Linked DNA regions of Homo sapiens: all the other regions are reported to be linked to region 3. Evidence: microRNA targets listed by miRTarBase, many of them from high-throughput screens and not tested one by one. Region 3 holds a microRNA gene; each other region holds the end of a gene's coding sequence.
Evidence for each region. The annotated mature microRNA hsa-miR-4711-5p reads UGCAUCAGGCCAGAAGACAUGAG and lies in region 3 at 1,486-1,508, opposite strand. An mRNA with a match to its seed (bases 2 to 7 or 8) in the 3' UTR can be bound and repressed. Matches are read on the target gene's strand: a 7mer-m8 pairs with bases 2 to 8, a 7mer-A1 pairs with bases 2 to 7 and ends in A, and an 8mer does both.

Region 1 (8,552 bases), not on the chromosome of region 3:
AACACTCAGGGAAGGCAAAGGGGGACAGACAAACTTGGGGAAACAAAGAAGAAACAGAAAAGACCAGGATGTTAAAGTCTCCTGTGTGGTTCATGAAAAAATAGAAAATAAAAAAAGACCAAGACTTGGGGGAAGAAATAGACTGTAAAGGACAATGATAGTGGTATTCTCGCCAATACAGTATGGTATAAAAACCTAAATAATAATATGTGTGTGTGTGTGTGTGTGTGTATATATAGATACTTTTCAAAAATAAGTTCTCTCTTGAAAGGATGGGGAAGAGGCAAGAAGAAATAAGCCCACAAAATCTATTCTCAAGCTCCAAGATATTGCTAGATGGTTATTTTGAGCATCACAATCCTACCTAGTTTACACTTTTTTCTTATCCCCCAGGATTTGCTCTTGGCCGCTTTGGGGATGCAGAAGAGAGGCCCATAGGAAACTCAGGTTGAGGCCCCTTTGTTGCTTTTGAAAAAGTAGAGGTTAAAGGAAAATGCCCACCTTAAAAAATAAAAACAAAACAAAACACTCAAGTGGCCAACTGCAGGACGAGGGCCTACTTAATGTTCAGTTCTGAATCAACACTGAAATTATTTTCATCTTAGGTTGACAGGGAAAATCTAGGTCCTGCCTAAAAATGTGATGCATTTTGAATCACTAAACTAGCATTAGGTGTGTGACTACAGAAAGGAGCCAGCAGTTGCTATCAGCACCTTGAAGAATTCAAGATCTCTGCTTAGCAAAAGAAAACCAAAATACAGACGACCTGGGTGCTCGGCCCACCATTCAAAGCCAACAGGGGATGGAAAGCTATGTTTTCAGGATGTTACAGAAGCACACATATATATTTTCCCACTGCATGAAATTAAATTAGACTGCGTACTCTTATTTTTCCCACTTGCGTTATGATGGTATCAATAAGAGTGCAGTTTAGATTTTTTTAGTTTTTTAAAATCAACTTTCACATAAAAATATGCATGTGCCTATATTTATACACATCTGTATTTACGTACAATTGTCAAAGTCTTAAAGGCTGGGGTTTATATCTCTGCCCATCCCCTCCCAACCCCAAAATCCCTAATAGAAAGGTTTTCATCTTGCTTAAAAAGACAAAACAACTAAAAAGACTATAGCTCTTAGCAGTCAGGCTGGTGGATCAGTGAATGAGAGAGGACAAATTGGCGAATCAGGGCTGCCGATCAGCCGCACGGGGCGCGGAGGATGGGGTTGGGGGGATTAGCTGCCTTGGGCTGAGTTTGCTGGTCCTGAAGATTACAGTTTTGGTTAGAGAGAGAAGCCTGTCTAGCATGCTGACTCGGTCTACCTCAAGCTTTGAAAGTAATGTCTAACCCTGCTGCCAGTTTATCACAAGTGCATTAAAAATATAGAGATCTATCAAGTTCCACATTTATATGCAATCAAACTGAAAAGGACCAGACAAACAGTGCAAAGGTCAAATAATTACTGTTTTATATTGGGACAGTACATTTCAGATTTCAACCAAAAGACAAAAATGCAGTTTAACTCAAAGGCACAACAATTGAAACACAGAAAATAATGGCATCTCTTGGATGCCTTATTTCTAAATTAAACAAAGAAGTACACAAATTTTGTTCCCTTCCCTCCCCCAGTGCAAGCCCACAAGCTTTTTCCAAAGTCTTGAGCTTTTGATGCTGTCCCGCATTGTGGACTTGTGAGGCGCTTGGATGTAGCAATGAAACAAAATGCTTGAGAGGTCTAGTGAATGGCATTCAAAAGGGACCTCAAAGTGCAGACATATCTTTTTCAAATATGTTACAGGCTGAACTGGCTCTTTGAACACTATCACTCTGCTTAAATCCAGGAAGCAGGCTTTAAAAATGCAAAAGGCATACAAGTTGTATTTCAGTGCAAATCTTTAGCTGGTTATTGGAAAAGATTCCAAAAATTAAAAAAAAAAAAAAAAAATCCTTTGTGTCACCTGCCCCTCCCCCCACCCAAAGCCAAAATGAAGAAAAGACAGAACAAAACAAAAACAGAAGAATTACAGGTGACTTTGGAATCATTTAGGAATCCACTACTTCCAATCAGAATGTTTAGAAAAATACATTAAAGAATCATTTTTTAAAAAACACAAAAGTAATCTTGCTTTCTGAGACTGCTCTTCGGGTATAGAATGAGCTTCCGTGTGGAGTGCGTTTGAACTTTGACCTTAGCTGTGTGCGAGGTGCAGGCGCTGGGGGAGCTTCAGGCTGTGGTGTGCGAGTGACCGCAGGGGAGCGTGGGGTGGCTGCCCGCTGCCGAGTCAGCCGTTGAGCCCTTAGGTCGCAGTGCGTCCGTGGATTTTAGTAATGTTCTCATCACTTTGTGACACACTCTGCTTCAGCATCACAGATTTTACAAATGGTTCAAATTCAATGAAAAAGATTCGCCAGAGGCTGAAAACATCAAGACCTCAAAAATATGAATGCAAAAATATTCAGGGGAATGAACTAATTTTGTAGATACCTACATACAAAGTTTCTAGAACATCTATAAAACCACAAAGTCATAAGAATTTGTTTTCCATTACATTAGTTTATATAAAATGAATAAATAGTATTTATAGATTTAATGTGTCTTATGTACATATACATGTGCTCTGTTTTAGCTTAAATAAAAATGCTACAAAGTCGGAGACCACTTAAGGGAGAAATCATAACCAAAAAGAAAAATCAGCCTTTTAAACTATCAACCCAAAAGCCTCCATAAAGAAGTTTCTGGGTGTGTCCAAAAATAATCAATAAGGAGAGGAGTTCTAGTAACAGTGTACCATCCTCTCCTGTTCACCTGCAACAGAGAGTAGAAATGTGGACTTTTTCTTTCACTGATAATGGCTACTAGCTCTGCTAGTGCCACAGCTCAGTTATTGCTGAAAGTTCAATAGGAAAATAGATTATAATTGGACCAAATGTCACTATTTTGGGGGGGGAAAAAAGGATAATCACTGTGTTAAGTGGGAAATGGAGATCTCATTTATCTCTGAGGTAGGAAAAAAAAATGTTCCAGAGACAAGTAGCATTAACAAAGTTGGAGGGGAGAATGTGCCTCGAGATAGCAGAACACAGCGAGGTCCCAAGAACATCGCACAAAAATAGATTGTACCGTTTTGTTTGTGAGAACAAACAATTTGGAACTTTGATGAGCTGTGCAACCCCAGAGACACACTATCAAGGTGTCCATTTTAAAGTGAGAAATACTGCTCCCATCCACACGCGGCGCGTCGGGGGAATGAGCATGCGCGGTGTGAAGGGCGTGTTTTCTAGAGGTATTCCTGACTTCCTCACTGGTGGTGAGGTCCATGGTTAAGTGCTCTTAAATGCTGCTTTCAAAGCTTACTTTGGAGTTCTGAGATCAGGATCTCAATTTCAAAAGTTTGTTTCCTTCAGTTTCCTAAGTACAAGACACACTTGGACATTCCTCCTAGGCAAGTAACACAGTAAGCCAGAAAACTGGAAGAAAGGTCTGGGAGAGGACACGAGGAGAGCAAAGAGGGGGATTGCTGAGATGTGGACATTGCTTATTCGGTCTAAGAATTCTTGGATGCTTCAAATTGATTGGAATGTATAGTCTCTCAGAGACAAATTTTTATGGCGAGAAAAAGAGAAGCTAGTGGATGCAATCAGAAACCCACAATCCTAAGCACCTCCTTGAAAACAGTTACAAAGCTGATTTTGGTCAAGGTGGGACACTGAAGTTTACGTGCAAGGGAGTTGTGGGCAGGTCCAATACGTTACCTAATCAGAACCAACAGGGAGAACCTTCAAGGAGACAGCCGCAGTGCCCACTCTCTTAGAGACCAAGACACGCCTTGTGACTGTCCTGCAGCTTTATTCTCTTGATGCTGGTGCTGGAATAGCCCTCATCACTGCCGAGGCTCTGCATGCTGCCCCGCTCGTCAGAGTCGCTCACACTGCTGCTGCTCCAGTCCAGATCACCTGTGAGATAGTCCGTGCTCTCCACGTCAACGTCGATTTCTTCTGCAGGGAGGACAAGAGAGAAGGACATTGATGAAAGCGCTCTGCAGAAAGCTCAGGCGTGGTGGCTCATGCTTGTAATCCCAGCACTTTGGGAGGCAAAGGCGGGTGGATCACTTGAGGTTAGGAGTTTGAGACCAGCTGGGCCAACACAGTGAAACCCTGTTTCTACTAATACAAAAATTTGGCTGGGTGTGGTGGCTCACGCCTGTAATCCCAGCACTTTGGGAGGCCAAGGTGGGTGAATTACTTGAGGTCAGGAGTTCGAGACCAGCCTGGCCAATATGGTGAAACCTCATCTCTACAAAAATAGGAAAATTTGCCAGGCATTGTGGTGTGTGCCTGTAATCCCAGCTGCTTGGGAGGCTTAGGCAGGGGAATCGCTTGAACCCGGGAGGCGGAGGTTGCAGTGAGCCAAGATCACACCACTGCACTCCAGCCTGGGTGACAGAGCAAGATTCCGTCTCAAAACAAAACAAAACAAACTAGGCTGAAAACTGACACCAATCAAACTCTTCTGGGGTTGTCACCTAAGTGTTAGCAGGGAGAAGGAACCTGTCACTGGAGGTCACACTGTTCGACTTCTCTACATCATACCCAGTGTCTTAGTTCTTCTTACACTCTGCCTCCTGTCCGCAGTACTGAACCCCTGCTCTGGGGTTGGGGAGCACAAGGGAGACAGGGAGGAGAGTGAGAGAGGCTCACCCCTGTCGGAGTCGGAGCGCTCCGAGGAGACGGTGGAGCCGATGCTGTCCATCCGGATCCTCTCAATGCCCAGCTTCTCCAGCTGCCTCTTCAGGTGTCGCTGCTCTCGCTGAAGCTGGTCGATTTGGTGAACGGCTTTTCTGTCACAATCTTCAAGTTTCTGCAAGTCAAAGGGGTAGTTGTTGGGCCCCACAGGGAGATCTCTAAATGGGCAATGGCCCCCGCATCTTCCCTTCTAGCAGTGGAATGCGCCACACTTCCTCAGACGCCTTTCGGTGCCACTCATCAAGCTTCTCCCTGAGACAGGAAGTCGACTGGCCAGTGACTCCTGGCTTCGTCTGACTCTTCAGCATCGCCAGTGCTGGGGGTACTTGTCCTGTCACAGGGATTCTGGGGGTGAGCTCTCACATACTGGCACCCTGGTAGCCCTCAGTTTTAGTATCAGAAAGACTGCAGGCAGCAGTCCCCAACCTGATCTCCCTTGTTTGCAGCAATCCCCTGAACACCTGATCTCCGGACTAGAAAACTGCACTTGATGGGAGCTTAAGAAACACGCTTCCATTTAAAACTATGTTTATTCAAGTACATGTCCCAATTACATAAGCACTTTTTTGTGTCATGCCAAATCTCAATTAACTTCTGTTTGTTAGCAGGAAATAATAGTCCCTTTTGATGTCCTGATTCTAATTTGTCCAACAGAAGAGTTTAGAAAACACATTTCCATAGAATACTCATTTTTATAAATCTGCCCCCAGCTTCTCATATTCTTCAGATAATTAAGAAGATTGTTTAATTGTAGCTGTTTTGCTTTAAATAGAGGTTTTCTCCCAGAATTGTCATGAATGCAGGCTTCTAACCATAATTAAAGTAACATTTGTCCAACTATAATATGATTATACAAACATGCTAAACAGGGATTTTGGCTGTGGCTCTCAAGACTTTGAATCCAATTCCCCTTACCCTTTGCTATTCAGGTAGCAAAGAGAGTGTCAACTCTGTGCCCGATACCCTAGGAGGTGCTGGGGCTGTGAGGTGAGCACAAAGACCCAGTCCCCTCCCTCGTGGGGTGTATAGTCTAAGGATTGAGACAACACAATGGTCACACAAACCACTGTCAAATGTCAGTTATGACAGGGCTAAGAGATACCCAGTGATGGGACCACCTGTCACAGGAAGGAGGTCACTGAGTTGGGAAAGTCAGCGAAGGATTATCAGAGCTAGAGAGACTTGCACTGTGATCTGAAGAATAAGTAGAAGTCCTCTAGGTGAAGAAGAGAGAGGAAAGTGTACCAAGCAGAGGGAAGAGCATTGACAAAGGCCCTAAAGTAAGACAATATGACAGTGCCAGGGACTGGAAGAAGGGCTGGAGAAAGGGGAATTGGGGAACAAGATGGTGCTGCAGAGGCAAGTGAGGACCAGGCAAGGCAGAATCTGGGGCAGACCAGGTGACAGAGCTTGTCCTGAGCCACAGAAGAATTTTAAACAAGGTCACGTGTTGATTTGCACCTTGGAAGGACTGTTCTCAGGAAGCATGGAAAGCAGACGGGAGGGACCCAGAGGGATATAGGGAGACCTCTGAGGATTTTATTGCAGTAGACAGTGGGGATGAAGATGGAAGTAGACCGGTTGCAAAATATTTAGGCCTTGGAGATGGCCTAGATATATGGTTAAGGAGCAGGAGCTATCACGGACTCCTGAATTTCTGGCTTGTACAACTGGATGGAGAGTTGGATGGACCATTTAACCTCTGGTGCATGGGAGTGAGAAACACTCAGTTGGGTTTTGAATATGTTGCATTTGAGGTACCTGTGATTCATCCAATAGCTAGACTGGAGGAGTTCAGGGGAGAGGACTGTCCTGGAGATGTAACAACAGACAAACCCTCACTGAACAGGTAAAGATAAAGCAGCATCCCAACAATACACTTACCTTTATGTGCAATTTGGCTTTTGTTAATAAACTCAACGTAGTGTGTCGACTTGATTCGGGTCCAAGTGGCACCAGCCCCTTCAACTTCTCCAGGCACAAGCGAAGATGAGCCCGTCTATGAAAACAAGACCACAGTAGCATTTGAGAGTTTCACAGTGGGCCAGAAGCACCCCAGGCAGAATGAGTTCTCAAAGAGTGTGAAGTTGCCCAGGCCTTGCGATGGCAAATGCTACCAATGACCTTTTGCTGAATAAACATATTTTGAACCAGACAACTCTGGTGAAAACCAATGAGAAGCAAAATCCAAGGTTTTCGAAGCTAAGTCTATTGATAATACAAGTGCTGGGGTAGGGAATAATATCTGCTATTATATAGTCATTCACATGTGTAAATACTATATACAGTAATGGTCCCTGACTCATGATGGTTCAACTTACAATTTTTTAAATTTATAATGAGTTTATTGAAGTATTAAATGCATATTAGACTTGGGATGTTTTTTATTTATGATGGGCTTCTTGAGACATAACCCCATCATAAGTCAAGGAGCATATATATCTGTGGAGTTATTTGTTGAAGCTTTATTTGTAATAGCAAAGATTGAAACAACCCAAATGACCACCCAGGAGGGAACTGGTTAAATAAATTATGCTACATCCACACCGTGTAGTACTATGTAGCTATCAAAAAGAATGAGAATGTGCTTTATGTCCTATTAGGAAAGATTTTCCAGATATATTGTTAAGTGGAGAAAAGCAAGATTCCAAACTGTGAGTATACCATGCTATCTTAAAGATGGAGGAAAACAAGAATCTATATTCATGTTTTCTTGTATGTAGACAAACTCTGGAATGACACATAAGAAACTGGCTGGGCAGGGAGAAGGCAAGGAACAGTCAGACAGAGATAAGGAAGGAAGTGATGGGGGTTTTTACTGAGTCATTTTTTATACTTTTTGTTCTTGGAGTATGTCAGACTGATGCAATGGCACGGAGTGGGAGAGGGAGAAGGGCTGGATGAAGCAGCAGCCACGGCAACTGACTGAAGAGAGAGCACGAGAGTTGCTCCAACTGAGAAATTTACATTTCCTTGAAATGGTTTGTGCTTTATTCTAGAACCTGGAAAATTCTATGAATGTAAGAAGCAGCTGAGATTTGGGGGTTTTGCTTAAGCTTACCACCTCCTTAAAGCCTTCCCAAGCCATCCTAGCTCACAGTGATTCCTCTATTTTCTAAGCACCACTTAACTGTTTATATTATTCACTGGGAAGTTCACTGTACTGCCTGACTTGTTTCATATTTCTTACTTAACCATTCATTGCAGTCTCCTTAGAAAGTCAGGATTGCAGCTTAATCATTGCTGTGCTGTCACCGTGCCTCAAACACACACATGCTTAATAAGTGTTTGCTGAATGGATTATGTCATCTATTCAACTAGACTTTAAGCTTCTAGAGGACAGAGTCCATCTCTACTGCATCTTTGCACCTTCAGCAGTGCTCAGAGTCTTCAGGTTTTAGATAACATTCATTGCCCACACACAACCTACTTGGAGCAGAGTTCCCTGGGGTCTAGGAGGCTCCCCTCCAGCTGAATTGGGAAACAATGCAATGCCTTATAGGTTTGCCCTTTTTCCTCTTAAGAATTGTACTGTAATAGCAAAAGTTGAAAATATAGACCAAAGAAAGGAAATGGCTTCAGAAAGCTATAGGACAGGTGAATATGCATGATATTAATGTAAGAAGTCAATTCACACTCTCCAGGGAGACTTCAGGATGTTCCCCTAAGGCAGGGCTAGTAAGCAAGGCATTAGACTTCCTTCCTTCTGAGCCTCCTGCCTCTTCTAGGTCATGAGGAAGTTGTCCTAAACTCTCCAAGGGTGCTCTAAGGCTTGGCAAGCTTGGGGAGTACAGCATTCATTTCTGA
Region 2 (8,552 bases), not on the chromosome of region 3:
CATTCCTCTTTTATGGACATTTAGGTTGTTTCCAACTTGTTGCTATTACTGCAACATATTTTTGTACACAGGACTTTTTCCTTCTTTCATTTTTGTTTTTCTCTGTATAAAGGCCCAGCAGTGAATTATATTGGGTCAAAGGATATAGACGTTTTCATGGCCTCACACATATTAAACTTTTTTTGTATAAAGGTTACAGCAATTTATACTTTTTTCAGTAATTAAAATATAGCTATTTCACTGAAATATTTCCAGCACTGAGCATTAATACCTAGTTTGCATTTTGTTTACTAAAAAGGTTGACCAGTGTGTTGATTCTTCTTTTATCTGATAAAGTGTGAAGCAACTAGAGAACACTTATTTGTTCAAAGTAACTAGTCCTATTGATATACAAAAACCACAACAACTTCCCTGGATACTATTTTGAAATGAACACATCAATTTTTATTTGAATGTAGGTATTCTTCACACTGAAAAACCAAATCAAGATCCAAACTGACTTTATGTATGTATATATCTCTCAATGCAAGCAATATCAAACTTCATTTTCTCTACAAAAATGCCAAGTTAGTCTCTTTATAAAAAGCAGTTACAATCTGAAGACATTCATGTTACTTCCTTTGCCAGCTCCAACTCTGCCTTATTTAAATCTTTGCATTTCATGGGAAACATTAATTCTATCTATGGCAGAGCCACTTGGTTTGTTAGCAGACTGATTTGCTGTCATCAGACTGTGAGATGATTTTTTGTGTGCATCATTTTTTTCTTGACCAGCTTTTTGAAAATTAAGAAATGGATAGTCATGTTTTCTTCAGGTTCTCAAGTATTGTCAGCATCCGTAAATCCCTTCCACTCTGGGAAATACTACTGCTCCCTGCTTCCCATGGCTTCCACATCAGTCCAGGACTTTTTCTACACAAATTATTCTGGCTCTGCCTCCTTGACCTTGGTATTCTTAGCATTATTTTTCCCATTTTTTTGCAATGGAGTTTTTAATGGAGGTCATTGATTTCTGATCACAGACTTGAAGAGCTATGATCCACATTTCCAAGCTGCTTGGGGTCCCTGGTTTACAGTGTCTCCAGCATTCTGTACCTAGAGCCACATCTAAAGGGCAGGGAATCTCCAGTGTGGTTTTTTGTTTTTTTGTTTTTTGTTTTGGAGTCTTGCTCTGTCACCCAGGCTGTCTGACAAGTAGAAGACATATCCACTGTAGCAAGGAACACTATGGAGTATATGAGTTAGGGAAAAGAGACTGTGAAGGGAAGAGAACAAACATTTTGTAGACGTTTGGTGTTGAATATATGCTATGGAGGCAGTTTCTATAGTTTCATTTACTTCATGAGGTTTCATTTTTTCTTTTCTGAGATGGAGTCTTGCTCTGTTGCCCAGGCTGGAGTGCAGTGGTGTGATCTCAGCTCACTGCAACCTCCACCTCCCGGGTTCAAGCGATTCTCCTGCCTCAGCCTCCCTAGTAGTTGGGACTACAGGCGCCCACCACCACGCCCGGCTAAATTTTTGTATTTTTAGTAGACATGGGGTTTCACCATATTGGCCAGGCTGGTCTCAAACTCCTGACCTTGTGATCTGCCTGCCTTGGCCTCCCAAAGTACAGGGATTACAGGCATGAGCCACCACGCTTGGCCAATGGGTTGGTTCTTAACATGTATTTTTATTTATAAGAATGGGAGTATAATTTATTTTCAAATGATGATGAATCTCCTGAGTCACATTTTTACCCTCATTTAAACTATTGTCTTTTATATAGACTATAAGTGGATATAGAGTATGTTTTGCTGTATCTCAATTCTCTACCATTCCTAGCATATAATACATAATTTTAGGGTAGCCCTCCTGCCATTCCTTGTTAGCACTACTTTCAATAAAATGAGAGTATTAAATATTGGCAGAGTATCTGAAATATGAAATAATTTTAGGTTGCTTTGATCTTTAAAGAAGTTGCATTATATATTTTACTATTTAGATCCACACTGTTGATACAATCATACATATCACACAAAATTTTAGCTTTGAAATGCATTTATTTTCTGATTATTGGAATTCATCCTTCATGAAATTTTTAGAGTAGTGTTTTAAATTAAGCTCCAGAGTGTAACTGCAACCAAATAGCAATACATACAAGTGGTTTTCCATTCAAATTTACAAAAGCATTATTTATTAGTAATAAAAATATAGAAGGAATTCAGTTTTCCTTTTATCCCCAATTTTTTGCTTTTAAAAGACCATTTACTAACATCCTACTGTAGATATTTCGAGAGACAGATGAAAATAATAATAATAAAGATTATTATAGCCAAATCATCCAGTTAGCCAGGAGTTTGATGACTGGATATTTCAGAGTCTACTGCGGGTTTTAAATATTTTGTTAGCAAATGAATTCATCTGTATGATGAGAGACTTACATGTTTTATAGCTGAAAACCTAAGGAGTGACAATAGTACATGTGACATTCTTAACAGTTAAAAACTGAGTAAGTCCTGTTCATTAGGTAGGTGCCATGTGGAACAAGCTTTCACCTCATCAATGCATTTTGTTTTCAGAGAAACAGACTAATGATAGATTAATGGGAACATTTTATCAGGTTAGCAGTAACTATTTCAAAGGTTTTGAAAAGTATGCTAATAATTAACAATATCTTATATTAAAAGGGTCCAACACTAAGTTGGGACATTAGGTCCTAAGGCCAACTCCCTATTCTAAGGTCTTCAGAAAAGGTCCAGTTTCCTAAAACTCACAGGTCCAAGGAGTACATGTTATTTATTGAGAGTTCCTTCTGAGCACTGCACTGCCAACTTCTAAAGCAACCACCTAGAACTTCACTCCATAATGAGGAAAAAGTTTTCATCCTCTTTTTGGTAGTTTTAGCTTTATTTTGAAAAAGTAACGTGTGCTATCAACTTTGGGCAGATACAAAGGAAATCATTTAACCTGGTTTTATTTAACTATATTGCCTTATATGGGTCATTCTATATACTATTTAATTCATAGACAGAGACTGGAAAAGGAAAAGGAAACCTGAGGAACTCTGAAATATGGCAGTTATTCCACAGCGATATGTCTACGCAAAAGATTAGCCGTAATGTTAAAAAAGTAGATTAGAGCACAAATGCACAATCACCTGGAATCTTGGAAAAGTTTTTCTTTAGTATACATGGTTTCATAAAATTAAAGTTATTTAAGAGAATGAAGGGTCTTGGAAAAAAAATGTCAATTTTTGAAGGCTTTAAGAATTGATTAAATTGAGAAATTAACATGGCTGACTTTCAGGCCTACTTAATTATTTTAAATGACTAATTATGGTTAGGTTTAAAATACAGCAGTGCAAATTAAAAATTCAAATATGTAACAAAGCTCTCTCTTCAGTTCTTATTTAAAAAAAGATAAAACTAGGTACATAAAATTATATTACAGGAACTGTAACTATCCTCAGAGATTACTTTTTTTAAATATAGAAAGGTAACACGCTTTTAGCCACACAGCTAACATGAAAAAGAACTAACTAGAACACATATAACAAGTGATTTTTCTGCCAATAAAGACAAAAGACTATTTGTTGCAAAGTATTATTTTGTGCAAAAATTAAAGAGGAGAGTAGAGAGTAGAAAATTGAAGAGAGTAGAAAAGATGACTCATTAGCAGTATCCACTGTTTGTTAGGAACTGAATTTTGCCCCCAAAACCTATGTCACTATCAGCAATGGGAGTGGTGACAACTGGTGACATAAAAATAAGCATTTTACATTACTGTGAAATAGATAATGCCAGATCATTTCAATATAATGAAAAGCAAAAATTTACTTTTTAATTTTTTTTATTTTTCCATCTAAAATGGCAAAGAGAACATTTACTTTTGATCACTTAACAAGGACACACCCAGGAAATTTGATTTTCTCAACATTAGGAGGATGAGGGGAGTACAGATGGAAAAACAAAAGATAAAACACAAAAGGAGTACATAAAACATTGTTTAGTACAAATAATGAAAAATGACTTCATGACATTTTCCAATAAAAGTTATTTTTACAGATTTTGCAATGCTGTAAAAACCAGGTATATTGAAAGGGGTTATTTATAGGTTAAAAATAAAGCCATTGATGAGTGATAATCAGTTTTAACAGAGTTCACGCAATTATCTTAGCTGGAAAGCTACTGTCCCAAGTGACAAAATTTATGTCCTGACACATGATTACATATTAAATCATTTTGTAAAAGAAATGATTCTGTATGTGGGACTGACAGCTCTTGAGAAAGTGCTATACAAACAAGGTTATAGAAATGTTGAAGTGATTGATAATCTTAAAATACCATACAAAAATGTGTAAACAAAAGGATGGTTTAGAGTTGCAGGGCATTATAAAATATGTAATTTTAGTTAAGACTAATAATAATATTTTTGTGCACTTTAAAAATGGTTAGTGTAATCTTGTAAGTTCAAAGCTGGGTTCTCAGTGAGCAGCAAAAGGTGTTAGATGCATCACCACACTTCACAGGACCTCCTGAATGACTGCAGATGTGCTGTGTACCTTCTTAAGGGGCTTTGGCTGACCTTATGAGAGCAGGAGCTCACCATGCTTATGGGTGACTATATCAAAAAGATCTGCAATAAGGCTCACCTGGGAGATGCTCTAGCATTCAAATTCCTATACTCCTCTTTTATCTACGCTGTCAGATGAAAACTGCTTACTGCTTTTAAAAGATATAATAAACAATATAAATTCTGATAGTAAAGCACTATAAAAATTAGGTATGATATTTTTGGCACAAAGCACTTTTTAAACCCAAGCTCATTTTGCAAAATATATGTCTAGAGTTTATCATTTGAAAATAAAAACATATACACAATATGTAAATGGTTTTATAAGTGAATTAATTAGAATGTACATTTTCTTAAATACTGCACATACCTTCAGCTTACTCCAGTACCAGACATCTGCATGCACACCCCACATTCTACATTACACAGATATTGCACAAGTTTCAATGCCAAAATACTAATGCAGTCTGGCAAGATTTAGGGTTTACCTTTCAGTATTATTTTGTGAAAGTATTCAGATTCAATACTATTTCGCAGAAAAGCTACATGACCAATTTCAGGAAAAGAATGCTTGCTATCTTTCCTTGATCCACAGTATTAAAATCTGTAACAATATATTTAGGCATTTCATTTATGTTTTCCAGCATTTAAAATTCCGCAAAACCTGTGTTTGAAATTTCTTATAGCATTCCTTTACAAACAGGAGAAGCTTCGTCTAATGTAAAAAAAATTAAAGGAGTCCACAGGGCAATAATTTTTCCACCAGAGGTCTCACTCTACATTCTGAAAAGCACTGCAGAGCAATATTTAAGTCTGTCACTTTCAGAGAGCCATTAGGAGCAAAGTCTGCTGAAAACCTTGTAACATACCATGACAGCTGGATGGGTTTCTTAATGCATTGCACAATGTAATTCAATTGTTTTCCTCCCAAAACATCTTAGGGTATGCTACAGCTGCTAAAAGGATTTCTGTTTTTCTTGGTCCTTTGTTTGTTGGGTCTAAGATTGATGACATCTCCACCATTGAGGGTACCTGAATTCTGACCGGAGTGACTTCCACCAGATGTATTAAAGACACCTGTATAAATTGAGGGAAAAGAGTGATTGCCACTGACACGCCTGAGTTACCTGTTGCATCCAGCTTGTTAGTAAAATCAGTAATATTTTCAAGTATTTACAGTTTCTCTAAAATTGTAGTAAAATCCAACAAAATTTAGCATCTTAACCATTTTTAGGCATACGGTTCAGTGGTATTAAATACATTTGTAATGTTGTGGAACAATCACCCCCGTCCATCTCCATAACTCTTTTCATCTTTAAAACTGAAACTCATACCCATTAAACAGTAACTAACTCCCCATTCCCCCTCCCTGCAGACCTTAGCAACCACCATTCTATCTTCTGTCTCTTATGATTTTAACTACTCTACCTTATATAAATGGAATAATAGTGTCTTTTTGGGACTGACTTATTTCATTTAGCATAATGTCTTCAAGGTTCATCCAACGTAGAACACTGAAGCATTTCCTTCCTTTTTAAGGGTGAATAATATTCCATTGTATGTATATACCACATTTTGCTTATCCTTTCATACATCAATGGACACAGATTTATGATTTTAAAGCTCTTGTTTTAGTTTTACTTTTAGTAGCTAATACGCATGGTACAAAGTTCCAAGGCTGTAAAAGAGGTCACATTAGGGCTCTTTTTTACCCAGATTTTCACCCCTTGCCAGTTTTCCCACCCCTAAGGTACGCATGTTATTACTTTTCCTACTTATCCTTCCAGATATAGTTTATGCATATATAAGCTAAAATGCATATATATTCTCTTTTCTACCTAAGTTGTGGCATATTCTACACAATGTTCTGCATCTTTTGACTTAACAATTTATCTTTGACGTTTGGAATCAGCAAATACGATAATTTTTATTTATTTATTTTTTGAAGACGGAGTCTCGCTCTGTCGCCAGGCTGGAGTGCAGTTGTGTGATTTTGGCTCACCGCAACTTCCGCCTCTTGGAGTCAATTGATTCTCCTGCCTCAGCCTCCCGAGTAGCTGGGACTACAGCCGCCTGCCGCCACGCCCGGCTAATTTTTCATATTTTAGTAGAGACGGGCTTTCACCGTGTTACCCAGGCTGGTCTCAAAGTCCTAAGCTCAGGCAATCCACCTGCCTGGGATTAGAGGTGTGCTAGGATTACAGGCATGAGCCACCACACCTGGCAACTACGATAATTTTAATAACTTACTAACTTCACATCATATCACTTCCTCAAGAATACCTTTTAGTTAACAACAGTAACAACAGTATTTCTGAGTTGTGTGTGTGTGTGTGTTTTAAGAGATAGGGTCTTGCTCTGTCACCAGGCTGGAGTGCAGTGGTGCAATCATAGCTCATTGCAGCCTTTAACTCCTGGGCTCCAGCAGTCCTGCCTCAGCCTCCTGAGTAACTGGGACTACAGGCACAGGAATGCCATCAGCTAATTTTTCTTTTTTTTTTTAAGAGACAGGATATTGCTATGTTGTCTAAGTTGGTCTCAAACTGTCGGCCTCAAGCAATCCTCCTGCTTCAACCTCCCAAATAGCTGGGATTATAGGCACAAGCAACCACACCCAGCTATTTGTGAGATTCTGTGTTAATACTAGTAAGATACGTTTTTCCTACTTATACTAAACCAGTAAAAAAGTGGCCCACAGATAAAAGTGATGAGTAGCTAAAAGATAAAGAACTTTATAGTTTCCATTTTGAACTGTGCTATTCACAAAATGTAATCTCCAATTTATGATATAGCATCCATGACACACAAAATTCTGGGCCAGAGATACTGTCAGGGATACAAAGGTGACTAAGACCAGTTCTCGCCCACAAGAAGTTTACAATGTAATAAGACAAGACAGTAAACAAGTAATGCCATATGACATTATATGTTAAGTGTCATAAAAGAGACACAAAATCTTACAGAAGTTTCAAAGGAAGGACAGATTGCATCTGATACATAAGAAAGGAAAAACTACATGAAGAAGGTAGAACTGGACACTTGGCAGTGCCCTGGGCTTAGATGTCTATTCTTTTAGAAGATGGAGGCTGGGCAGTGGCTCACACCTATAATCCCAACCCTTTGGGAAGCCGAGACAGGAGGATCACTTGAGCCCAGGAGTTCAAGACCAGCCTGGACAACACAGTGAGACTCTGTTTCTTTAAAAAAGAAAGAAAAAGAGTATGGAGGATGTGTCTTCAGGCAGGCAGATACACAACTGAAAACTTTCTAGAAAGGCCTTGAGGAATGAATTGTTCTTCGACAGAAGATGGGAAAGAGGTCATTCTCAATAGAAGAAAAAAAATGACCAAAAGTGAAGAAGAAAGCAAGCATGGGGCATACTCAGGAAAGATCAAGACCTCTGAGAGAACCAGTAAATGGGTTACATAGATGTAATGGTGTGGCAGGAGGCTACACAGAAGGAAGGGCAAAACCACCTTTAAATGTTGGATTGAAGAGAATCTGCATTTACTTTGTTCCACAATGAGTCTTATTAAAGCTTTAATCAGTAGATATGAAGAAGACAAAAGGGGAGCCAAGGAGATCACACCAGGTAGAGGCTTATTATAAGTGTCTTGTGTTCACAAAGCATTTGAGGTCTCTGATGGCAAGAAATTTTGCAATGAAAATGGCAAAGGCAGAAAAAAAAAAAAGCCAGAATCCAGGAAAAATCTAAGTTAAAACAGGTCCAGAAAATAATGTGTTTGTTTCTACATATGTAGTGAAGGGGGACAGAATACAGATATGAAGTCCTTAAGAGATTATACAAGTATCAAGATTTAGAACCAGCAACTTTGGCTCTCATTTTCCTGGAATCCAGAACAAGAAGAGAGACATCTGGTCAGGCAGTTATTGTGAAAGAGAACACAACACACTTGTTCTTCAGAGAATGCTAAAGTTTTGCTGGCATTTAACATAAGAAAAAGCAAAATCAGTAATGGGTAATAAGCAAGATAGTA
Region 3 (4,000 bases):
GATGATGCCTCTGAGTGTTCTAAGAGTCAGAATCCCCTGGAATCTGGCTCTGATCCCCTGCTCCGAATCCCTGTTTAAGCTCTCTTCCCAATGCCCTGTTTATCCTAGGTTTGAGGCCCCATCTTCCTCTTGCTAGATACAGTTAAGCCAGAGAGACCCAGATTTAAATCCTGCTCTCTCATTAGCTGTGTCATCTTGCACAGAGTAGCATCAGCCTCACCGAGCCTCAGTTTCCTCATCTGTAAAATGGAGGTAATACCAGTCCCGTCATCATCCAGTTGCTGTGAGGATTAAATGAATTGCTGAGTTGCCGCACACAAAGCATCTGGTCCAGTTCCTGGCACAGAGTGAGGGTTCAGTTTATTTTCATTCCTTTTCTCTTTAATCCAGTTGTACAAAGAGGCAGAGCTGTCCCATTTGACCAGAGAATTTTACTTCTGTAGCTCTTTAAATTCTCTCCCCGCCATGTACATATGGGCTTAGCTAAGTATTTTGAGATCACAGTGTATTTAGGGGAAAGTCCTTTTGGCTACAGCTAAAATTAGGCCTCTCTTGTGCTCCTCTGTTTACCACCCCCCTTCCTATTTTAACTAATTAGAGGCATTGACACTAAGAAACACTTAAGAAAAGTTGGAAGAACAGCTGGGAGTTGTTCTAGATACAAGCAGCTGCTCCCTGTCAGCATGCAGGCACAGAAAAGGATGATCCTGAATGGGGAAGTGCAGGGAGGGCACCTCAGAGATGAAGATGAGGAATGGCAAAGTCTGTCTATGTTGTGGCAAACTGAGCAGGGTGGAGTTCTTATCACTCTGTCCTCTACCTTCTGCTGAGAGAAAAGGGGGGTCAGAGATACCAAAGCAGATAGAGGAAAGGGGGGCAAGAAAGGGGAAGGGAAGGAAGGTATTCAGGAGCTTAGCTAGTTGGTTAGTTGATTACTTTATGCAGACCACTGTCGCCCCCACCTAGACCACTGCGGTATCTCCTAACTGGTCTCATGCTGCCGGCTGCTTTCCTGCTGGAACCAGAGACGTCACAGGAACATGCAATTCTTGCACCCTGAAATCCCCGCGACGAGCTTCCACCATGGAATTTAGACAGAATTCCAAAACCCATCACATGGCCCCCGAGTACCTGGATGCACCTTCCCCCTGTTCCCCGTAATTGTTACTGCTCAGTCCTGCTGGCTTCTGTTCATTCGCTCTGCTTCAAAGGACTTTCTCTCCTGGAGCCAGATTGCCTGAGTTTAATCCAGGTTTCCCTACTCGCTACTACTACTTACAGGCCTCTCCATCTCCCTTCCAGCCTTAAACACCTACTGAGCTCCCCTGGAATTCCCTGTCCACGTCCTACACACTCTCCTCATGGAGTCCCCGGGCCTGTGCACCCCCAAATAAAAGTTTCTGTGTTTCCAGATGGCCATGGTGACTGTGCATAAAGCCTAGCAAATGTGCATCAAGCCAGAAGACACGAGACCTTTCCAAAGGGCTCATGTCTTCTGGCCTGATGCACATTTTTGTGTCCCCTGCCCCATCTCCTCCTCACTACCCTCGGGAAACTGGGTGATGTCTCTGTGGGAAGGGCTGAGCCTCAGGCTCTGTATTGATTGTCCAGTGCTGCATTTAAACTTCCTGACTGGATATTCAGAACTTATGCTGTTGTTTTGTTTTGTTTTGTTTTGTTTTTTTGTTTTGTTTTGTTTTTTAAAGCAAGCACCTTCACATCTCAGGTGTAAATGCCAGATCTTCTAACACTTACAAGGACAAATTCATTTCTTACTAAATAGTCAAGCTTAAAACCCACATGACTGGCTGATGTAAGCTTTGGCCTTGTCTGTGAGGAATTTTTGCAACATTATTTCTCTTGATTTCTTTCTTTGTTGCTGCTGTTCTCAGAACAAGGCAAGGCTGAGGTTCTCCTTCTCAGTTACTCCATGTCCCTGAATTAAGCCCTGTGAGATCTAAAAACAGGAGCTCTGTGCACACAGCCGTAAGGACAAACCCTCACTCTGCATCCCCCTAAGTGGGCCACATGCCTAAGCCCAGAAATCTAAGAGTTACTTCTAACAACTTTCTCTCCCTAACACCCTCATCTGGTCTGTCACTGAAGCATGTTTTCTGCCTCCTGAGCATCTCTCATATCTGGGTGATAAGAGAGCCACCTTGATGTCCCCTGGCCCTTGCTGACCTCAGCAGAGCCTTTGGGTGACAGTAGCTCTGGCTTCCCAGGGCCCTTGGAAAGGAGACTGTGGGGTCCGCGTGGTATGGCCCTGCCTGCCTCTTGGTTCTGTTTCACCCACACTTCCCTTCACTCTTATCTGCTCCAACAACACAGCCTTTCTCATTCCTCAAGTATCAGTTTTCTTTTCTTTTTCTTTTTATTTATTTCAGTAGGGTTTTGGGGAACAGGTGTTGTATGGTTACATGAATAAGTTCTTTTCTGAGACAGGGTCTTGCTCTGGTGACCAGACTGGAGTGCAGTGGTACCATAACAGCTCACTGCAGCCTTGACCTCCTGGGCTCACGTGATCCTCCCATCTCACCTCCCAGGTAGCTGGGACCGCAGGCGTGCACCGCCACACCCAGCTAATTTTTTGTGTTTTTTTGTAGAGACGGGGTTTTGCCACATTGGCCAGACTGATCTAGAACTCCTGGCTCAAGCAATCCACCCACCTTGGCCTCCCAGAGTTCTGGGATTACAGGCGTGAGTCAAGTGTCATTTTTCGTCCTTCCGTATGGCCCTCTCCTCTGCTAGACACATGCTTCCCCCTCCTTCAGCCATTAATACCTGTGCATCCCTTGAATCTCAGCTAAGCTATGACATACATGAAGCATACATGCATATAGACACAGACATACATACCATTCAACCTAACATGAGGTGATTGAGGAATGCCGAGACCCTCCTCTCCCCTCTCAGTGCCCTGAAGCAGCCCCTGGGGGAGGGGATGGCCCTGGTCCCTCTGACTCTGACAGGGACTGCCCTCCCACAGAGAGAGGAAGGCCTCGGGAGCTGGTTGTGGGCTCACCTCTGTGGTACTGCTCTTCCTCCTGCTTCTGAGCAGAGAAGGCCTGGGGGCCAAGGTGCCCAGGGGCTGTGGACAAGATCCTTTTATGCTCTGTCCTTGCCTCTAATGTGACAGATTATTTTGTAATTACCTGGCAGAGATAAGTTTGGTTTCTGCAAATAAACTAGCAAAGATTCCAAGGTTATTAAACACAACCTTGCCTCATCTATCTGGTCATATCCAAAAACCTTAAAAGAATTTTTGTTCTTCTGAATTTCACTCTCCAAGGCACAAAGACCAGGTGATGGTGGGGCAGGGGTAGAGAGAGGGATGGGAAGACTTCTCACAGTGATTCGAGAACGTTCACACACACATACGCACACAAAAACCTTCACTCTCCCCCTCTCCAACCCCACCCCACTGACTGCACACATGTCTTGGCCCCCTTGAGAATCCCTTTTCCATAGACAAGCCCTCTGAGGTAAGAGGTTTAGGCCTCCTTCCTGCTTTAGTTAACATCTTGTCTCCACAGAACCACATCCAACCTTCCATTTTTCTCCAACCTCTTTAGCTCATGAGGAAGATTTACAGCCTGGGAGTCAGGAGGCCCAAGTTCTAGTCCTTGCTTTGACACCAGGTGATATTGTGGTCTTCTCTGAGTATTGTTGGTTCACTCTTATGAGAGCATTCTCAGACCTGTGGCATTTTCACCATTGAATCCACTGTGCACAGAGGTAACCAACATTTGTGACACCTGCTGTTTGCAAAACACTGAGCTAAGAATTAGTGATTACTTCTCAACCCACCATCTCTACAAGGCAGCTATGACTCCTGTTTTATCTATTTATGAAGGAAGACAGAGCTTAGCAAAATTAAGAATGCTGCTCAGACCCACAAACAGGTAAGATTAGAGGCAGGTTTCAAAACGAGGTCTCTGTCTCCAGAGTTTCTGCCATCACAGTAAGCTGAGTCTCAACTGTACTATAGAAAAATAAA
Region 4 (8,552 bases), not on the chromosome of region 3:
GTCTTTACAGAAAATAATTATTTTAAAAAAAACATTAGTGGGTTGTGGTGGTAAGCACCTGTAATCCCAGTTACTGGGGAGGCTGAGGTGAAAGGATTGCTGGAGCCTAGGAGTTTTAGGCTGCAGTGAGCTATGATAGTGCCACTGCACTTCAGCCTGGGTGACAGAGTGAGACCCTGTTTCAAAATATATTTAAAAAATAAGTATAAAAGAAGAGATTGCATGTGGGGAGACCTGTTGGGGAGGTTCCTGCAGAGGCCAGTTGAGAAATGAAGTGGGTTTAGAACAGGATGCCCACAGTGGAGAGGCACGCTGACCTGAGAACTTGGCTTAGTCTGGCAATGAGAGAACCAAACTCTGTGTGTTGCCAACGGATGCATCCCTGCTCTTTATGGGCTGAGAGTTCTGTAGGAGGCAGAGAGAAATTAGACATTTGCAAAACCTCAGGAGTAGGGGTGGTATGATATGGTCCATCGAAATTTAGGCTGTAAATTGGTGAAAAGAAGATGGGGAGGAAGTTGAGGTGAAAGTACTCAAAAATGGGATTATGTTCATTAAACCAGTCAAATGTGGTTTGTGCTGAATGCTGACAGTGTTGGATTAGGATTTGTCCCCCGCACTTTTTCTTGCAAGCAATGCTTGATGGGCGTAGTGATCATAAAACATCTTTGTTTCTTGGCATTTATAAAAAGAAATACATTTTTAGCATACAGCAAGTTGCCTTGAGCAGCTTAAAATGAGAGCCTTTTCAAGTGAAGGTTATATTGAGGATTCAGCTCAGCTAATGAAGGTAAGAACGGGTTTCAAGTCTAGCCTTATGCTTCCTGGAATGGCCCTGGCCCCTCACACATTCCACCCACCAACCACATTGCTCCCAACACCTACTTCCCCACAGGATTGCTATAAGCCCTTGGACAAATCATTTAGCCTTCCTTAATTGACTTGTGCTTAAAATGGAAGGGACCTGGCTCTTAAAGTCTCTTTTACCTCTAGGATATTTGATTCCACACAACAAGAATCTTTAATTCCCGGAGTGCTGTGCTGTATTTTATGTGCCCATGTGCTCTTTTGAATCATGGGCGACTTTATTACTTAACATTAACTGTCGTGGTTTCTGGTGGATCCTTCTTTTTTTTTTTTTTTTTCTTTTTTTTTTTTGAGACAGACTATTGCTCCGTCACCTAGGTTGGAGTGCAGTGGCATGGTCACAGCTAACTCCAGCCCTCTTGGGTTTAAGCTATCCTCCTGCCTCAGCCTCCTGATTAGTGGGGACCAGAGGTGTGAGCCACACTCTTGACTAATTTTTTAATTGTTTGACGGGGTCTCACTACTTTGCCCAGGTTGGTCTCAAACTCCTGAGCTCAAGCAATCCTCCTACCTTGGCTTCCCAAAGTGTTGGTATTACAGGTGTGAGCCATCGTGCCCACAGAAAGTGTTCTTCCCTTGCCCCGAGAAAAACCTGTTTCTGAAAACCACTGCAGCTTCACGGAGGTATCTTCCTTTCTCTCTCCCAATTTACTTCAATCCACAAATGACTGAATATGTGCTTGTTGAGCACCTGGCCCAATGTGTACCCTACATTGTGTTCTTGGCTGTCACTCAGTTCATTGTCAAGGCACTCTTGGGAGGCAGGGGGTATATCAGAGGAATCAGAGGCTCACAGAAACTAAGCAACTTGCTCAAGTTTATGCAGCAAAAATAAGATAGCAGACTGCTGTCAAACCCAAGACTTCTGATTCTATGTCCAGGGTTTGTTTTTGTTATTGTTTCTCTAAATTGATGTTTCCCAAAGTGGGAGACTCACTCTCCAGGTGTAAACCCAAGCTGGTTTTAGATGGTTCGTGGAGAAGGCAGGAAAAGGAATACTGAATCACATGACAGGAAAGTTGTTTTCTTTTCAATTCTCTCTCAAACATCCTGTTTAGTCAAGTAGAAAATGGGCTTGGTGTGAATGTGCCTTTCGTATGTGTTGAATATTTGCTAATCTCCCATCTTAACAGAGAGCTGGTCTCAGGCTTAGCAGCCTCAATAGCAACAGGGTTTAGCAAGAACTTAATAAGATATTTTTATTTCATATTCTATTTTTGGAACATGATATTGTTTTTCTTCACATTGGCGATATAAATTTGCCTTTTAAGGAAAAAAATTAAGGGGGAAATAAAGAAAAGTACTGGATAAATTAGAGTTCAGGTGTCTGAGTATAATGATACAAATCATGCCTGTACATCCATGGAATGAGGCTGGGAGCAGCTCTCCATTTATTCATGCTGCCTCCCTCACTCACGGGACACGCGGGGCTTCATGTGATCATCGTGACACTAAGTTCTGAATCTGCTCTTTATTTATTTCCCTTAGAAATATATAGAAGCAATTATAATGAAAGCCATACTTGCCCTTAGGACCATTGAGGTGTCCTTCTTAAGCATACATTTTATAACTGAAATCAACCCAAGCTAGTAATGGAGTCTTAAAACCTAGAAAAAATATGTAAGTTTATTGCAAAAGATAATATCCCGTTTAAAACAGTTTAGAAATTTACAAAACCTTACATCAGTACATCGTCTTTAAGAAGGTGCTCTATAGATGAGCTGGTATTAAGTTCCAAGGATAGTGAGTATGCATTTATGCATTGCTTTTTAAACTACAGAGAAAGCAGCTACATAAACTCCTGCAATTTAAGTTGATGTATTGGTCTTTTTCCTTTCAATTTTATAAAAGTAATTTTTGCTAAGTTAATATCTCTCCAGCAAACCAGATAACCTCAAGTACAGCATTTCTGTAGAATATCATGGTAGATGTTACGTAATATTTTACAAAGAAGCAGTGATTTTCACATGAATAAGTGAGTATGCAGTTTTGGTATATGTGTGTGTGGTGTTTTAAACATAGAGACGACCATTTTTGTTCATCAGGAAAATGTTTATGGAATCCTATTTCCTCATAATGATTTTAAATATCAATTTTTCAGAAGAGAACTCCTTCCCAGTTTCAGGTCAGTGGCCCAAGCAATGCGGTGTTGTGCTTTGGTGTAGAATCAGTACAGCCTTGTTTGGCTGTATTTCTAGAAATGTCAACATTTTATTTATTTTTTTCTTTTCTTTTCTTTTCTTTTTTTTTTGTTGGGGAAGTGCAGAAAATGTCAACATTTTCTAGTCCCAGTTTTATTTAATTCAGTTAAGGGTTCATGTGAGGGCCTCAACTGGAAACATATCTATGACCACATCAGCTTATTAATTTTGTGTGAGGTACCTCAAACATCTCTTTATCTTCCCAGGCTAACTTTGGCCAGTAATCCAGCTCAGCTCTGAGTCACTCAGCTCACATAATGTGGAACGTGCTAAGAGTTTATAAAGTAGGAAAGCATATGTTCTTATCTGTATTCAAGAATGGACAAACAGGCCGGGAAATTTAAGCCATTTGCCAAAGGCTAGTGGTATAGACTGCTTGGTTGCCTGGATCTCTTAATTCTGGGAACAGGGTTATTTACATTCTAGCATGATGCCCGAGAATATAAATTCACATGAAATTAGCGTAAGCAAAGCAAATTAAGATGGAAGCTCTACTACAAGATAAAATTACATAAGAGGTCCCAAATGATTTCACTTTATTGGATTATCCTCTATTCTGTTCTTTTCCATTGCTGGGGCCAACTGACAGTTGATCGTATGGATACAGGAAAAAAAAAATCTGTGGCTTTTAGCCAGTGGTAGCATATCTTATTGAAATGTGGCTTCTTAAGTATGACAAGTGTATTTATCTTAATTCTAACATGACGTTATATATTCCGGTCTGATTCTGTGGGCTTAAACATTACACTAGAAACAGAACAAGAACATCTTGAATGACATTCCAAGACTTAAATAGTGCAAGCTGATATTCCTTGCCAAATTTCCCTTTCATTCTCACTGAAATAGCTTTGTTCACTGCATCACTATGACAGGGGAAGGTGAAACCATCGGAGTGGTTTGCTCAATTAGGCTCAATTTGCAGTGGGGTAGGTACATCCCACGAACACACAGGATTCTGTGCTCTGCAAAGATTCTAGCTTAGACACTGGATCTTCAGCCAAGGGAATTACAAAATACCTTCTTCGTTTAATGTATGTTTAGTTTCAGGCTCCCTTTCTAGCAATGTCAATCTAACCACATGCTGATAGAGATTTTAATTCAACCAGAAGGAATCTGAGCCTTTCCATCCTACCCCTCATCCACAAGAGTATATAGCAATTACTTAATTATATTACTTTAGTAGTTTGTTCAGCCATGCAAGTTTGACTGGATCCACATGTATGTAGGTCTTGTCAACAGAATGAGCCAGACCTTGAATAACTCAGACTTTGGGATGGAAAGATATTTAAACCTCAAATAGAAAAAACTATATCCTCATCCATAGTCCTGCTAGTTTTTCAATCAGGTGACCATTGTCTGGTCACCAGGAAGGGAGACTGTGTCGATTAATATATGTTTGAACCTATCTACACGGCTGTTTCTGGGATGAAGGGATGAGAAACAGTGTTGTGTTTTATCTTAGCCTTATCTATGTTACTCATAAGATGTAACTGATGGACAGGTTGCTGGATCTCATGATTTTAAATATTGCAGGTAAGTTAACTATGGAGTCTTAAAGTTCACACCAAAAACAGATTCCACCCATTTGCCAGGTGGTCTCAGGCCCTAGGCAGAGAAGAAGCATGATGGTTTAGGGTGGGCCCTGGAACAGCTACAGCTGCTGAAATCCTCTTTGAATTACACTTATCCAGCACAGCCACACCAACAAGTTTATACCCTGGGGTGGCCTGACTCTGCCACAGGCAGAAAGGTGCATGCACCATGAGATGACAGAGCCTTAATTTGGGATCAAGGGGCTAATTAAAAAGGAAAACAACCCAACACACCAGGGTGATCTTGCATAAGCATTTTATGCCCTGCCCACTTCTCTTGTGCTTATTATGTATGCTGATATCTTAGAAAACTGCCAGTTTATCTCATTTTTTTCTATGGTACCTGCTTATAACCTATAACCTCCCTCTACCTTCCGGGTCTGCACAACACTATTTTTTTCTTTTGGGTTTATGAACCCAGGATGGGAAGGAAGTGCTTGGCATCTTGGAGGTGTTGGAAGGTGTAGTGTGGGGTTTTGCTCGTGGTGGGAATCTGGTCTTAAAACTCAGCATGAGTTCTGGCTGAGTGTGACAGGGAACTTGGCAAGCGGTCACTCTAGTGTCCGTGAAGCCCTCAGCAAGCAGTCGCACGCACTCAGGTAAGGATCGTGGTCAGGTGTCCAGCAGCGGCTACATCAGCTCCAAGGCTCTTCTGTTTCACAGGCCAAGGGGCTCACAGCCCAGGGCCTTTGCAAAGAAGCAGGGCAGGCCTTAAGTGCAGTGGATTTCCCATCTCAGGGAAGTGCGTGGAGTTGGGGGGCTGGGGGATGGTCCCAACCAGCTCAGATCCACCAGAAGCATTTCTTTTTCACCTTCTTGGTTTTCCGCCTTAAGTCCTGCTTTTCCGGGGCTGGGGGTTCTGCTGGGGACTTTGGTGGGGGCGATGCCTCCTCAACTGGCTCTGCTTCCTCCAGACTCTGCAAAACTTCATGGAACCTGCCTTCCTGCTGCCGAAAATCATACTCTACACTGAAAAACACAGAGAGGAAGGAAGGAAAGTGAATTCGAATCAGCACAGACTGATTAAGCATCTCTCAGCCCCAACTAATATGGAAGAGCATGAGCTTTGGGATCAAATCCTAGATCCTTAGGTACCTACTGGCTCTTTGACCTTGGGAAAGTGATGCCACCTCTCTGAACCTCTAGTTCTTCAGTGATTGAATTGGCACCTGTAATGCCTTCCTCACAGGGATGTTATTAAGGGTCAGTGAGACCTGATGGCAAGTGTTCTGTAAATATTGGCTCCAGTCTCTCTCTTAATCATTAATGGGGTTTTGGCATGTGTTATGCATGAAAACTGTCTCATTATTAAAAAATTGAGATAATGCAGAGGAACAGACAAGAAAACTGACAGCTCAGTTTCATTATCTGTAAAATGGGGGTAATAAGAGCACCTATCTCAAAGGCTTTCTTTGGAATTAATGTGTGTAAACTGAGATAATATAAATGAAATGCTCAGAGTAGTGCCTGGCGTGCGCTAAGTCCTCCGTATGTGTTAGCTTCTATTACCGCTATCATCATCATCATTAACATAATTTCTACCAATATATTACGTCTTGCTCTTTGAATTGCATCTCAACTTCAAGATATATCTTGGAGAGCTTTACATGTAAGACTGCCTTGTAGTATTCCTCAATACAGTGTATTTAAATATTCCTCTACTGATGGATGGACATTCCCAACCTCTTTTTCGTTGTTGTTGTTGTTGGCTATTTTACTTGTGTGTTTTGGTGTCATTAACATACGGACTGCATTGTCCCGTGCTGATTATCACAAACATTGAGGAGGTAAAAGTGAACCTGTCGCAGAGCAGGGGTCCCTGAGGTCAGGGGAGGTGGGCGTTGAACAGAAGCCTGGCCTGTAGGGAGTGGGTGCTGATGCTGTCTGTGACCTCTGCATGTCTGGAAGTCAGGCCAGCAGACCTCAGGGACTCTCAGCCTGCTTCCTCACTCTGGTTCACCCTCCCCAGAACCCAGAGAGCCGGGGCAGAAAAAACGAATCCTCTTAGACATCCCTGTGGGCTGAGCACGGGTTCCCTCTGTCCTTAATTGTCTTTCCTCCATGAGGAGGATTTACTTACAGAGGAGTTTTCAGTGCCAAGATGCTTATAAGAAAGCTCTTAAGCTTTTTGATGTGTTTGTTACCTGGTTTCATACCAGGGGTCTCAGAAGGCCCAAGGATGAGGAGCCAGCGTGGGAGTGTGGGAAGTGGAGGAAACGTGGTCATGAAAACAGTGCATTCTCCTTGTTTAGCCAGAAGGAAAATGAAATGTTGCATCTGGGAGACCAAAGACCCCATGTTGGTTTATGATGTGGCATGACTGGCCAGTGCCTTTATACCCAGCAAGGGCTGGAAAACAGCTGTCATTAAAGGGACATCTGCCCTTGCTTACTCTCCCCATGTCACCTCCCAGGGCCGGGGACCCGAGTTCATGCTGCTGCAAAGGCATGTTGCCGTTGCCATGCATGACGAATGGAGCCCCAAAGAGTGCCTCGTCCCTGAGCATTCTGAGATGGAAGAGGCAGGGCTGAAGAGTCAGAGGGGCGAGGGGGCCTGTTTTATAGCAAGACTGATGGGTTGTTGCAGGGCTGAAGAGTCAGAGGGGCGAGGGGGCCTGTTTTATAGCAAGACTGATGGGGTGTTAGTTCTTAGGGAGCACTAGGAAAGGGTATCTGATTGTTTTGTTTCTGCATTTTTCATCCAGGCTTGCTTCTCCTCCACTTACATGCCTTCTCTTTCTGTTCTCTCTGGCCCTCTCTATGGGGACATAATCCTGGCTGGATGACCTATAGGCCATCATTATATTAAATTAGAATTGTATTGTGGATGAAACATAGGCTGTGGTTTTTAAAGCAAAGCCCCACAGTTTCACTGTGAGATCTTGGGGAAGTCATTTCCCACTTCCAGGCTATGGTGTCCTCATCTGCAAAATGAGTAGTGCCTACGCAAAGGACCTCAGTGAAGCTTAAATGCCATGTGCATATACAACACGCAGCATAGAGTAGGCACCAAGTATCCAGTCAGTCACTCGACAAACATTTATTGAGCATCTTCTTTGTGGCAGGCCCTGTTCTGGCTGCTGAGGAAGGAATGGTAGGCAGACAATCTCCCTGGCCTCCTGGCACTGCTAATCCAGTGAATCTGTGTCCTCAGTGCTGGCATCAGTAGCTGTTAGAGACCTTCTAGCCAAAGCCCAGAATTTGCCAGGCCAGTGGGCAGAGGCATGTGCAGACTCACATACTGACTGTCTATTTCAGGAGTCTCTATTTCAGGAAAAACTCTGAAACCATGTTTTTCCTCTGCTCTCACACCACAACAACCATCAACACAGAAGAAGACTTCTATGACCAAATGTGTGGGAGTTTCTCCCCACTACCAAGCAGTGGCCACCAGTTGGGTGTCTTCCAATTCAGTTCCAGTACTATCTACCCAGAGATAGCATCAGATTCCATAGATTGGGGGCTCAATCCCACAAGACTTCCCCCCACTTACAAGTCCGGGACCTTGGAACTTCTGACTGACTAGCTTCAAGTTGGGGTTCCCAAAACCCCTTCTTTGGGTTTGATTAATTTGCTGGAGTGGTTCACAGAACTCAGGGAAACACTTCCTTACGTTTACTGGTGTATCATAAAGGATATTGCAAAGGATACAGATGAAGAGATGTGTGGGGGCTTCAGCCCCTGTGTAGCACTCATTCCTCCAGGGTATGGGCAGGACCCACTCTGGAATCAGTCTCTTGACCCACAATCAGATTAGATTCCGGCCTTAGGCAGGTGACAGGAGGACAGGAGAAGGTCAGAGAAAGAGACTTTGTTTCCTGAGGCCTGCTCCTGAGGCCTAACTCACCCAACGTGATAACAAAAGATTGTAACAAGGGCTATGGGAGTTATGA

Region 1: miRTarBase lists MXD1 as a target of hsa-miR-4711-5p. The part of its 3' UTR that is shown has no 7-base or 8-base seed match.
Region 2: the mRNA of RAB23 is a reported target of hsa-miR-4711-5p. Seed matches in the 3' UTR shown: 7mer-A1 at 4,491-4,497.
Region 4: miRTarBase lists INSYN2B as a target of hsa-miR-4711-5p. Seed matches in the 3' UTR shown: 7mer-A1 at 3,925-3,931.

Annotation. Positions count from the first base shown.
Region 1 is chr2:69,933,543-69,942,094 of GRCh38, reverse strand. It overlaps MXD1 (MAX dimerization protein 1), which reads right to left. Exons shown (of 6, transcript NM_002357.4): 4 at 6,630-6,744; 5 at 4,701-4,860; 6 at 1-3,998. The coding sequence ends at 3,811. It also overlaps a transcript of ASPRV1 not described here. Among named protein-coding and RNA genes, the nearest start is that of MXD1, 23 kb to the right of the region's middle. RefSeq lists an enhancer at 4,251-4,786.
Region 2 is chr6:57,184,970-57,193,521 of GRCh38, forward strand. RAB23 (RAB23, member RAS oncogene family) reads right to left here. Exons shown (of 7, transcript NM_016277.5): 7 at 2,023-5,631. The coding sequence ends at 5,492. It overlaps BAG2 (BAG cochaperone 2), which reads left to right. Exons shown (of 3, transcript NM_004282.4): 3 at 1-4,864. Among named protein-coding and RNA genes, the nearest start is that of BAG2, 17 kb to the left of the region's middle.
Region 3 is chr1:59,731,784-59,735,783 of GRCh38, forward strand. It overlaps MIR4711 (microRNA 4711), which reads right to left and starts at 1,513; the gene lies at 1,444-1,513. All of the region lies in intron 14 of FGGY (FGGY carbohydrate kinase domain containing), which reads left to right.
Region 4 is chr5:169,858,831-169,867,382 of GRCh38, forward strand. It overlaps INSYN2B (inhibitory synaptic factor family member 2B), which reads right to left. Exons shown (of 4, transcript NM_001129891.3): 4 at 2,473-5,629. The coding sequence ends at 5,443. The region is part of intron 27 of DOCK2 (dedicator of cytokinesis 2); the gene reads left to right. Among named protein-coding and RNA genes, the nearest start is that of INSYN2B, 120 kb to the right of the region's middle.